Linked DNA regions of Homo sapiens. The gene in region 1 interacts genetically with each later gene. Each region holds a gene or a part of one and is shown on either strand. Other genes may lie near its edges.

The links.
Region 2: changes in TAF1A (region 1) and FDPS together harm fitness less than expected from each alone (positive genetic interaction), as found in Homo sapiens cells (one large-scale study listed by BioGRID).
Region 3: changes in TAF1A (region 1) and TCOF1 together harm fitness more than expected from each alone (negative genetic interaction), as found in Homo sapiens cells (one large-scale study listed by BioGRID).

The regions. Positions count from the first base shown.
Region 1 is NC_000001.11:222,583,286-222,586,954, reverse strand, and holds part of TAF1A (TATA box-binding protein-associated factor RNA polymerase I subunit A), read left to right. Parts: intron 1-2,657; coding exon 2,658-2,827; intron 2,828-3,669. UniProt on the Homo sapiens protein: Component of the transcription factor SL1/TIF-IB complex, which is involved in the assembly of the PIC (pre-initiation complex) during RNA polymerase I-dependent transcription.
Region 2 is NC_000001.11:155,311,866-155,315,472, forward strand, and holds part of FDPS (farnesyl pyrophosphate synthase), read left to right. Parts: intron 1-389; coding exon 390-530; intron 531-3,607. UniProt on the Homo sapiens protein: Key enzyme in isoprenoid biosynthesis which catalyzes the formation of farnesyl diphosphate (FPP), a precursor for several classes of essential metabolites including sterols, dolichols, carotenoids, and ubiquinones.
Region 3 is NC_000005.10:150,371,124-150,374,792, reverse strand, and holds part of TCOF1 (treacle protein), read right to left. Parts: intron 2,788-3,669; coding exon 2,557-2,787; intron 620-2,556; coding exon 407-619; intron 177-406; coding exon 1-176.

The DNA.
Region 1 (3,669 bases):
GGAATATTTTATATGTCATGGATAGCCTGTTAAACCGAAAATACTTTTGGTCTGCAATGAGAAAATACTTGCAATTAATATTGACATTGTGCTGGTAATTAACCATAATAGGAAAACAAAATTGCCTAACAATTGTTCTATTTATTTTTTATGCTGGTAGATATCTTTTGGCTTTTTGAAGGGCATGCCCAGCAACCCCCTTAGAATAAAAACTTTGAAGACAGGGCCAGTCTGGATTGAAGCTGTATGATGAGTACCTGCGATAGTGCTTGGGACACAGTGGTGCCCAAAAAATACTTGTTGACAGATTGATAAGTTTCCAGATTCTTTGAGTAGCATATTAGAAGTTAGGTTGATGACACTAGTTCTTTATTGTACATCTCTATTCCATGTAAAAATGTGTTTTCCTTGACAATTTTTTTTTCTTAAAGTCATCAGGATCAAGTAAGACTATCTTTTGCTCATTAAAGAATGAAATGAGAGGAGAACTTTTCCTGAGGTAGCTAGGCTAGGTTGGAAGACAAAAGTATTTTCCAAACATTTAGGTATAGTTATCTAAAGTCAATTTATAATCTCAGTTGTGAAAGCTTGAGCGATAGAAGGGAGCTTAGCCTGAGAACAGTTCTCTCCTTTAGGTAAATAAGGGATGTTTTAAGGACGAGGTGTTTTGTCAGTTTCCTAGGCTAGCTGGCAGGTATTGCCACTGATGCCGAGCAGCTTTGGTGTAGATCTTATAAAATGCAGCTTCTGATTGAGAGAGCTGGGCATAGTACTCTGTAGTTGTAATGAGATTCCAGGTGATACTTCTGCTGCATGCCAGGACCACATTGAGTAGCAAGGGCAGGTCCCCAGGTGATTTGTATGTACATTCAAAAGTCTGAGAACACTAGTCTAGCACAGTAGTCTTCAAACTTTTCACTTTTGTATCCCCTAGTTTTTTCTGAAAAATTGAGTACTACCTTGCATAGTTTTAAGGAATCATCTGAAAAAATTTTATTGTATGTTTAATATTTGCAAGAGATAAAATTTCCAGCATGTTGGTATTTTTAAATGACTATATATTACTTTATATGTGATGGAGTCCAAATAGCACAGGAATGGCATAGGGTTTTAATACCTTGCGTTATTCATTTTAAAAAAAATTATGAACAAGCTTTTAATAGATGGACATTTTATGTTCCTCTTTGTTGTACTTCTTGCAATAAAAGTATGTATCAATATTTATACTTTTTTTGTTTATATCCTGTAAGTTTTAAGAATTAAAACTTTTTCTAGGTTGAGACATTGCTATCATTAATAGTTGTACACAGCTGATCAATATAACGTGTATTAAACGTGTTGTTGGCCAGGTGTGGTGGCTCATGCTCATAATCCCAGCACTTTGGGAGGCCAAAAGGAAGGATCACTTGAACCCAGGAGGTCTAGGCTATGGTGAGCTGTGATTGTGCTAGTGCGGTCCAGCCTGGGTGACAGAGCAAGACTCTTTTTTTTTTTTTTTTAATAAAGTTATCTAAAACTTTTCCCCAATTTTTTATGTATTTGTGGGTGACTTTTATGTATTTCTAGAATGAGAAAACATTTAGCATTGATTCTGCTATTTTTTTTAATTGACATAAATTCTGAGAAACCTTAGTCACATAAGTAAGTAGATGGCAGTGAATGGAGTTTAATTATAGCCGTGTATCAGGTCTGTGAATTTTTTCTAAATTATTGATGAAAAATTGCATAATGATTTATTGTAAAAAATTACGTTGTTCTGCAGTTTTGATGAGCAAAGAATTGGGAATTGCCTAACTTGCAAAAGGAGATGTTAGAGTTATTTACTTTTTCAACACCTGTGTTTTCACCTTCAGATAGTGTGTAATGATTTTGATTGTGAAGCTTTGACTATGTAGGCACAGCTGTCTAGGAGATTAACTTGTGGAAAGAGTATGTAAGGAAATCAAATATCTGCAAGTTAATTGTTTTAAAAGTATCTTTGTAAAGTACCTGTTGGTCTTTGTGTACTTACTGGGGTACAATTACCCAGCTGGACTAGAGGGGTCTCATAGTTACGTGGGAAGATAAGAAGATGTAGCAATGTAACTAGTCATTCATATAATAGCACTGTATCTAAGCCCAAATGTTCTTAACATTGGGATTGCCAATACTTTAGAGATATAAATGCTAATTTTTGCAACTGTTTTAATCTCATTTGTATATAATATCATTGAGTTACTAGGAATTTGGTCCTTAAAAAATAAAAGCCCACTTGGGGTTTGCAGAACATGGGTAGGTAATAAAGACCATGTTTGCCTAGAATGACCCTGACATTTTACCCATTCTAAATACCTGGGACTGTGCTTTTGGGGGCCTGTTTGAGAGATTCTCCGCAAATTATTTGGTACAAGGATGAAAGGATGATTGAATCAGATTTAAAGGATCTGGTGACTCTAGTAGCCCCAAAACATCAAATTAGAAATGTTTTTATCTGCTAAAAATAATTAATATAATGTAGAAGGGTTTGTTTCAAGTGAAGCTGGCTTTGGTACTGGGAATGGGCTGGGTCAAGTAATGCCTACTGTTTACTTGTTAAAACTTCTTATCAGAAGTAAGTTTTTTGAATAGTTGAACTGGAGCCACTTGGATAAAAACTCTCTTCTTTTTCGTTTTTATAGCCATTGGAGGGAAAAGGAGGAAGGATTTTGCTCAGACAACAAGTGCTTGTTTAAGTTTTATCCAAGAAGCTCTGCTGAAGCACCAATGGCAGCAAGCTGCAGAATACATGTACAGTTATTTTCAGACCTTGGAAGATTCAGATAGCTACAAAAGGCAGGCTGCACCTGAGGTAAATAAAATTTGAGTTTGCTGGAAGAAATGATAGATTCCCAGAAGTTTATGCCTACAGCTTCACCTACAGTAGCTTTTACAGAATCTCAGTGATTTTGCTAAAAGCTACTAAAACTACTTTTGAGTGGAGAGTTTGTATTGGGACCTTTTTTGCACACTTCTTTTTACCTCTTATTTTAAAGGGGACTAAAATGTTCATTCCAATAATTCTTCCTTTTCCCCCCTCTTTATGGATGTTTCCCATCATCATGTAAAAATTTTGTTATTCTATCTTTTTTTTTTTTTTTTGAGACGGAGTCTTGCTCTGTCGCCAGGCTGGAGTGAAGTAGCGCGATCTCGGCTCACTGCAATCTCTTACCTCCTGGGTTCAAGTGATTCCCCTGCCTCAGCCTCCTGAGTAGCTGGGACTACAGGCATGTACCACCACGCCCGGCTAATTTTTTGTATTTTGGTAGAGACGGGGTTTCACCAGGTTGGCCAGGACGGTCTCAATCTCTTGACCTCGTGATCCGCCTGCCTCGGCCTCCCAAAGTGCTGGGATTACAGGTGTGAGCCACCATGCCCAGCCTATTCTATCTTAAAATCATCTCTTGACCCAAACTTCCCCCATAGACTATACTTCATTGTTTTACTCTCTTTCAGCAAAACTTCTTGAAAGAGTTGTTCTCTTTTTCCAACTAGAGTGATCCTTTTTTTTTTCGTTTTATCAAGACGTTTTTTATACGCCATCACCCACTTAAATTGTACAATTCAATGTATTTTCATACATTTACAGAGTTGTGCAACCAACCATTACCACACTCTAAATTTAGAACCTTTTTTTTCTCCCATGAAACCAAA
Region 2 (3,607 bases), about 67 Mb from region 1:
GAGAGGCTGAGCCAGGAGAATTTCATGAACCCGGAGACAGAGGTTGCAGTGAGCCAAGATCGTGCCACTGCACTCCAGCCTGGGTAACAGAGAGAGAATTCATCTCAAAAAAATAAATAAATAAATAAATAAATAAAAACAAAAAATAAATTTACTAGGGTAGACCATGCAGAAAGAATGTGCCTGGGTACTGGGACCTCTTCTAGCTTTGCTCCAGAAATTTGGGGAAGGAGTAAAGACAGTAGCAATTCCAGAGGCTCCTTGAAGAGGAGTTGGGGTTGGGGAGGATAAAGTTAGGTGGTGGTTGGAAATGGGAGAGAGCAAGGAGAAAACTCACAGTAGCTGCTGTATGGACCCTGATACCCTGTACCTCTTTCCTTGCCCTCCAGGTCCTGGAGTACAATGCCATTGGAGGCAAGTATAACCGGGGTTTGACGGTGGTAGTAGCATTCCGGGAGCTGGTGGAGCCAAGGAAACAGGATGCTGATAGTCTCCAGCGGGCCTGGACTGTGGGCTGGTGTGTGGAACTGGTGAGAGGGGTAGGGCAAGGGAGAAGAAGTTTCCTGCAATGGTGGTGACTTGGGTGGGAAGGGGAGGGATGGGCCTGAAACTTATTTCTGGGTTGTGTTTGTGTTTCTTTGTCTCTAGTGTGCTACGGCCAAATTTAGAGTGAATCACTCCAAGGGTTAACTAATGTGGGGAGCCTCTTTTGGCATTAGGTATGAAGATGGCTGTAGATAGTTGTAGACAGTGTGGACTGGGGCCTCGAGACTGGGCAGAGAGGTGTCAGCTCTTTCCTCTGAGCAGAGGATGGCTATAAAAGTGACAGAGGAGGCCGGGCATGGTGGCTGACACCTGCAATCCCAGCACTTTGGGAGGCCAAGGGGGAGGATCATCTGAGTTCTGGAGTTCGAGACCAGCCTGACCAACATGGAGAAACCCCATCTCTACTCAAAATACAAAGTTAGCTGGATGTGGTGGCACATGCCTGTAATCCCAGCTACTCGGGAGGCTGAGGCAGGAGAATCGCTTGAACCTGGGAGGCAGAGGTTGCGATGAGCTGAGATTGCACCATTGCACTCCAGCCTGGGCAACAACAGCGAAACTCCATCTCAAAAAAAAAAAAAAAAAAAAAGGTGACAGAGGTCTTCCAAAGGCTATTCAGAAGCAGAAATTGAAAACTGGCAGCTCACTGACAGTATTTTGAAAATGTTTTACAATTAAGTCTCCTAAATTTAACAAAGAGATTTCACACTAAAACCTAGATTTCTAGCATGGCTTGGGAAATTGTAAGATTTGGGTCCATGTTCCCGCATAGCAACAATTGGCTGAAGCTGAGTGGATGCAACTTCTGCAAGACGGCATGTGTTCTCCTGTGTGCTTTCTCTAGTTTGCTCCAATCCCCACATCCCCTTGTCTTCTATACCAGTTCGTCTTGGTCTTGAAGGTGTCTAGTTTGCTGGCATGGCCTAAAGCTTTCATTAGTGGCAGGGGGACTGGGTTCTGGGAGGGGTGCCATGCCCGAGGAGGGTGGCAGTGAGCCCAAAAGGGAAGAGCATTCAGAACTTGGTGAGTGACGATGATGCTGAGTGCCTGGCCTGAGAGGAGCAGCTGGCTCAAGGGAAGACGTGCTGAGCACAGTCAGCCCGGGTACGTTCTTGGTATGGGTGGAGCAGGTGGATCTGCCTGTCCTGTGGGCGGTGGAAATTCCAGTCTGGAACTTGTCGGGGAGATGGGTCTGGAGAATAGAGATTTGCTTCCAAGGAGGTAATAGGCCCATGGCATCCAGGGAGAGGGCCCTGGATGACAGGGATGCTGAGGGGCTGAGGGGTTCAAAATATGGAGATGACAGGCAAGGAAGGAAGGGAAGGAGGATGAGGGCAGAGCAGAGGAGTAAAGCTATGGGGGCCAAGGGAAGCAAGACCTTGAGGGGCCAGTGGTTAACTGGTAGAATCAGTTCATTTTTTTTTTGAGATGGAGTCTCTCTCTGTTGCCCAGGCTGGAGTGCAGTGGCACCATCTTGGCTCACTGCAACCTCTGCCTCCCAGGTTCAAGCAATTCTCCTGCCTCAGTCTCCTAAGTAGCTGGGATTATAGGCACATGCCACCATCCCTGGCTAATTTTTGTATTTTTAGTAGAGACGGGGTTTCACCATATTGGTCAGGCTGGTCTGGAACTCCTGACCTTGTGATCCATCTGCCTCGCCCTCCTAAAGCGCTGGGATTACAGGCGTTACAGGTGTGAGCCACTGCACCTGGCCTAGAATCAGTTCTTAACCCTAGCAGCACCCTAGTTTCACCTGTAAGTTTTTAAAAATTTTTAATTTTTTTTTTTTTTTGATACAGGGTCTTACTCTGTTACCCAGGCTGGAGTGCAGTGGCATGATCTTGGCTCACTGCAATCTCTGCCTCTGGAGCGGAAGCCACCCTTCCACCGCCTCAGCCTCCCAAGTAGCTGAGACTACAGGAGCGAGCCTCTACTTGGCTTTTTTTTTTTAGAGACTAGGTTTCACCATGTTGCTGAGGCTGGTCTTGAACTTGTGGCATCGAGTGATCTGCCCATCTCGGCCTCCTAAAGTGTTGGGATTACAGGCGTGAGCCACCACGCCTGGTCTAAATTTTTTTTTAGAGACAAAGCCTCATTCTGTTGCCCAGGCTTGAGTGTAGTGGTGCAATCATGGTGTACTGTAGCCTCGACCTCCTGGGCTCAAGCGATCCTTCCACCTCAGCCTCCCAAGTAGCTGAGACTACAGGTGCCTACCACCACGCCCGGCTTTTTAAATAGTTTTTTGGTAGAGATGGAGTGTCACTATGTTGCCCAGGCTGGTCTTGAACTCCCGGGCTCAAGTGATCTGCCTGCCTCGGCCTCCCAGAGTACTGGGATAACAGGTGTGAGCCACTGTGCCTGGCCTGGGTTTTTTTTTTTTTTTTAATTTCCCTAATAAATAGAAAGTGCTGGTGGGGTTAAGAATCAGTGCTAGGAGGCAGAGGAAATTTGGGGAGGCCATGGAATTAATTATCTTGGAGACCATCATGGTTGAGTGGTGGTGGCTGAAACAAGATTGTCCTTGCAGTCACCCTTGGGAGAGGCAGTGAATGGGTGGCTTCAGGGAAACCATGCTACTCCAAATAAACACAGAGTCAATTAAACATGTGCCTTTGATGTGGAAAGCCCAGGACCTCCACACTACTCTTCTGAGTTTAGGTCAGAGGTAAAGATGCAGATGGATGCCTCCTTCCCTGAGGACCCTGCCTATAACAGCAGTGATTGCAACGGTCCTTTCCCCACGGCCCATGCTGGGCTCTGGCAGGCGGTGTTGCATGCTTCCTTTGCAATGTGGATCCACTACAGCACACAGGATTAGGATGGGATAAAGTCTTAAAAACCATGTCTTCTAGGCCAAGTGTAGTGGCTCATGCCTGTAATCCCAGCACTTTGGGAGGCTGAGGCAGGTGGATCACCTGAGGTCAGGAGTTCGAGACCAGCCTGACCAACATGGGGAAACCCCATCTCTACTGAAAATACAAAATTAGGCTGGGCGCAGTGGCTCATGCCTGTAATCCCAGCACTTTGGGAGGCTGAGGCGGGCGGATCATGAAGTCAGGAG
Region 3 (3,669 bases), on another chromosome or scaffold:
TCACTGTCCGATTCCTCGCTGCTGCTCTGCGAGTCCTCCTCCCGCTTCCCCGCCTGGGCCTTGGCAACTGCAGGCCCTGTCTTCCCAGGGGGCGCTGGGGCAGCTCCTTTCCTGGGGGACTCCTTGGCAGGGGCTGAGGCAGCTCCGACCTGAGAGGTTTTTCCTGAGGCCTTCGCCTGGAGAAACAAGACAAGGGGAGACAGCCCAGAGGATGGACGTGTGAGGAGACACAGGACACCACGTACAGAAGACCAGATAGGGCAAATGATGCCACACAGTGAGAGGGGAGTAAGGGGCTGGGGTCTGAGGCACGCCCGGGGCTCTGGCCCAGAGTGGGAGAACAAGTCCTGAGAAGGCCTTCTGGGGACGGGCCTGGCTGCATGGAGTCTCCCTCCTCAGGCCTCACCTGAAGCAGGGCCTTGGCAGCTGGCGTCTCCTCCTCACTGTCAGATGACTCCTCGCTGCTGCTCTCTGAGTCCTCCTCTGGCTTCCCTGCCTTGGTCTGGGAGGCTACAGCCCCTGCCTTCCCAGGGGGTGCTGGGGTAGCCCCTTTCCCAGGGGTCCCCTTGGCAGGGGCTGAGGCAGCTCTGACCTGGAGAATTTTTTCAGAGGCCTTTACCTGGTGAAAAAGAAAGGGCAGCTTGCTCTCCTGCTTGTGAAAACTCTCTGGTGATGCCTTTAGGATAAAGTCCAGAGGCCTTAATGAGGCTCCTAAGACCTCCCCTGCTTCCCTCCCCACTCCCCACCTTGACTGATACTTTGGCCACACTGGCCTCCTGGTTTCTCAAAAATCGATCAGCTTCACACACTCTCACTCCTGGAGCCTCCATGCCCCCTGTTCCATTTCACTTAGCCACTGCCTCCTCTGTCTCTGGCTCCCTAAGAGACACCACTTCCTTAACATGGTTCCCCCTGGTGCCCCAGCACACTGGGTAGTTAGAGCCTGTCCTCTGCTGGGCTCCCACTGGCCAGAGAGCTCTGGAGGCACAGGCACTGGCTTATCGGGAGCATCATCAGACTGGGCTGTGGGGAGGGGGTGTGCAAAGGCCCAGGGAAGGGAAGGAATGAAGAGGCAGTCTGAAAGTGGGGAAGGGACTGAGGGAGGCCCTCACTGGACTTTCTGCACATGGACAGCAGCAGGACCCCTGGAAGCCCACCCTCAGCCTCATGGGGCAAGGTTTGCACACCTGGCCCCCTCTTCACTAACTCCTCGGTGGGGCTCTGCACTGTCTTGGGGCTTTGGCAGGGTGGCTGCAGGCCCTGTCTTCCCTGGAAGGCCCTGGGTGTTCAGCCCTGGGCCAACAACCCTAGAAAACAGCAGCTCTGATCTTCTAAGAAGCTTCTCATGCAGAAAGTGCAGGCTGCTCCACACAGGTCTTGCTTGGCTAGCTCCTTTTTAAATTTTTGAGCCAACATGGAGAAAGCAGATTTTACATAAAAGTTCACATTTATGGCCAGGTGCGGTGGCTCATATCTGTAATCACGGCACTTTGGGAGGCCAAGGTGGGAGGACTGCTTGAGTCCACAGCTTGTGAAACACAGTGAAACCCTGTCTATACACACACACACACACACACACAAGCTGGGTGTGGTGGTGTGTGCCTGTATTCCTAGCTACTCAGGAGTGAGGCTGCAGTGAGCTATGATTGCCGCTACTGCACTCCAGCTTGGGCAACAGAGCAAGACTCTGTCTCAAAAAAAAAATTCACATTTGTGTTCCTTCTCAAAGTGGATGCCCATCCAACACTGTGTAGCCCCCAGACACTGCAAAATAGACAGCCGAGGCGTAGAAGTTCCCTGTAGATGGGGTGGGAACAACAATTTGTCACAATTCGTAGTCCTACTTCTACCTCAGGGCCTTGACACTTGCTGAGCCCCTGCCTGGAATGACCTTCCTAAGAGTGCTTCCTCCTTCTGGTCTTTACTGAGACGCCTTCTCCCAAGGCCAGCCCAGAGCACTCTGCTTCAAGTTGCCATTCCTATGTCCCCCACTTCCTCTTTACCATTTACCAGCAGCTAACGCAGGGGATCTGCTTATCTACTGCATGCCCCCGCCTTGTCCTGCCCCAGGCCTGGGGCTGGGTGGGTGACCCTCACTCTTCCTCCTTCCTGCTCTGACTTCCATTGCTTTCCAGCCCCCCTGTCTTGCCCTTGGGATACACCCAGGGCCTTGGGGCTGCAGCCCTGCCCACTCCCAGCAGATGGGGAAGGGAACTGGATTCCCTTTAGCTAACGTAGTGTTTGCCTGCTCAGGGTCTGGTTTGTCCTGAGAAGTCAGAGGATTAGGCAATCAAAACTTCTCAAGTCCCTCACAGCAGGACTGGCTGGGACGAGGACAGCGGCCCATTTACTAGGCAGAGAAACTGAGGTAAAGTTGGTCACAGACAAAGTGGAGTGCAAGACTCCCCTGTGGGAAGCAGGCTGTTCTTGCTCTTCAACTTCACACCATAGTCCTCCCTCTCCCCAACTCCAGTGGCAGAGGTGCTCATGGCAGAGTGCTCAGGCTGCTGGGGGACCCGCAGGTCCTCCAAGGGGCAGCCCTCCTCCAGGCCTCACCTGGCTTCGTGTCCCTGCAGGGGCCTCCTCCTCACTTTCAGATCCCTCCTCACTACTCTCTGACTCCTCTTCTGGCTTCTTGGCCCTCTTGGCTGGGGGCAGGGCCCCTCCTTTGACCTGGGGTGTCACATCCCCCACCTTCCCAGGGGCTGGGGCCGCCTTTCTTGCTGGAGACTCCTTAGTAGAAACTGATGAGGCTTTGACCTGGGCTGGTTTTACTGAGGGTTTCCCCTGGAACAAGAGGATGGAATTAGAAAATGAATAATAATTACTGTTTCCCCCTAAGGTTCTGTATTAGGGGCTTCAGCAGTTGATAAAGCTCTTTCCTAATGTCACTGGATTTTTAAGCAACTCCCTGAGACGGCTATTAGCTTTAGATCCATTTTCCAGAAAAGTACACAAGGCTTAAAGAGGTAAAATCACTCATGATCAATATGAAGGGACAGAGCCCCACTGGAACCCTGGACTGTCTGACTTTGGAACAGATCTCAAAACCATTACGTTCATCTCCCACCTGGCACACACCGGGCTTGGCCTGAGAGAAGGGCTTGCATCTCAATCAGGAGAGCGCATCCTGTCTGCCCCTTAAACTCAAGTATCTGATCACAGCAGCCCTCCTGAGGGCCAGGAGTTCAGGATGTGAACACCACCTCTGCCACTGGCTTGCCACACCTTGGGCAAATTCCTTCCCTCTGTGAGCTCTTTCCTACACTTCCACAATTCAGACATTTCCCAGGCAGTCAGTGCCCTACTTCTACCTCTGAGATCCATCAGACCCCTTGCGGCCCTGGGTTTCTGGGGCGTCTGCTACTGGAGCTCTGCACAGCCTCAGCCCATTGAGGTTGTGTGTTTATGGAGGGCTGGGAGTGGTCTTCTTCCCTTTGGCAAGGCCTGGGGTGACAGAAGCCAGGGATGTCCTTACAGCTGGTGGTATCTAGGGCGCAAGGGTGAGGACGGAAGGTGGAGGGCAGCCCTTGGTAAGGCCTGGGGTAGATGGGGGTGAGCTTTCAACCTTCACAGGGTTACTGGGCCAGGCAGCACAGTAAAGTGAGAAGTTCCCTGGGCACCAGATCAGTTCATCCCTGACTTGTGCTGGTTTTCCCTTGAAAACAT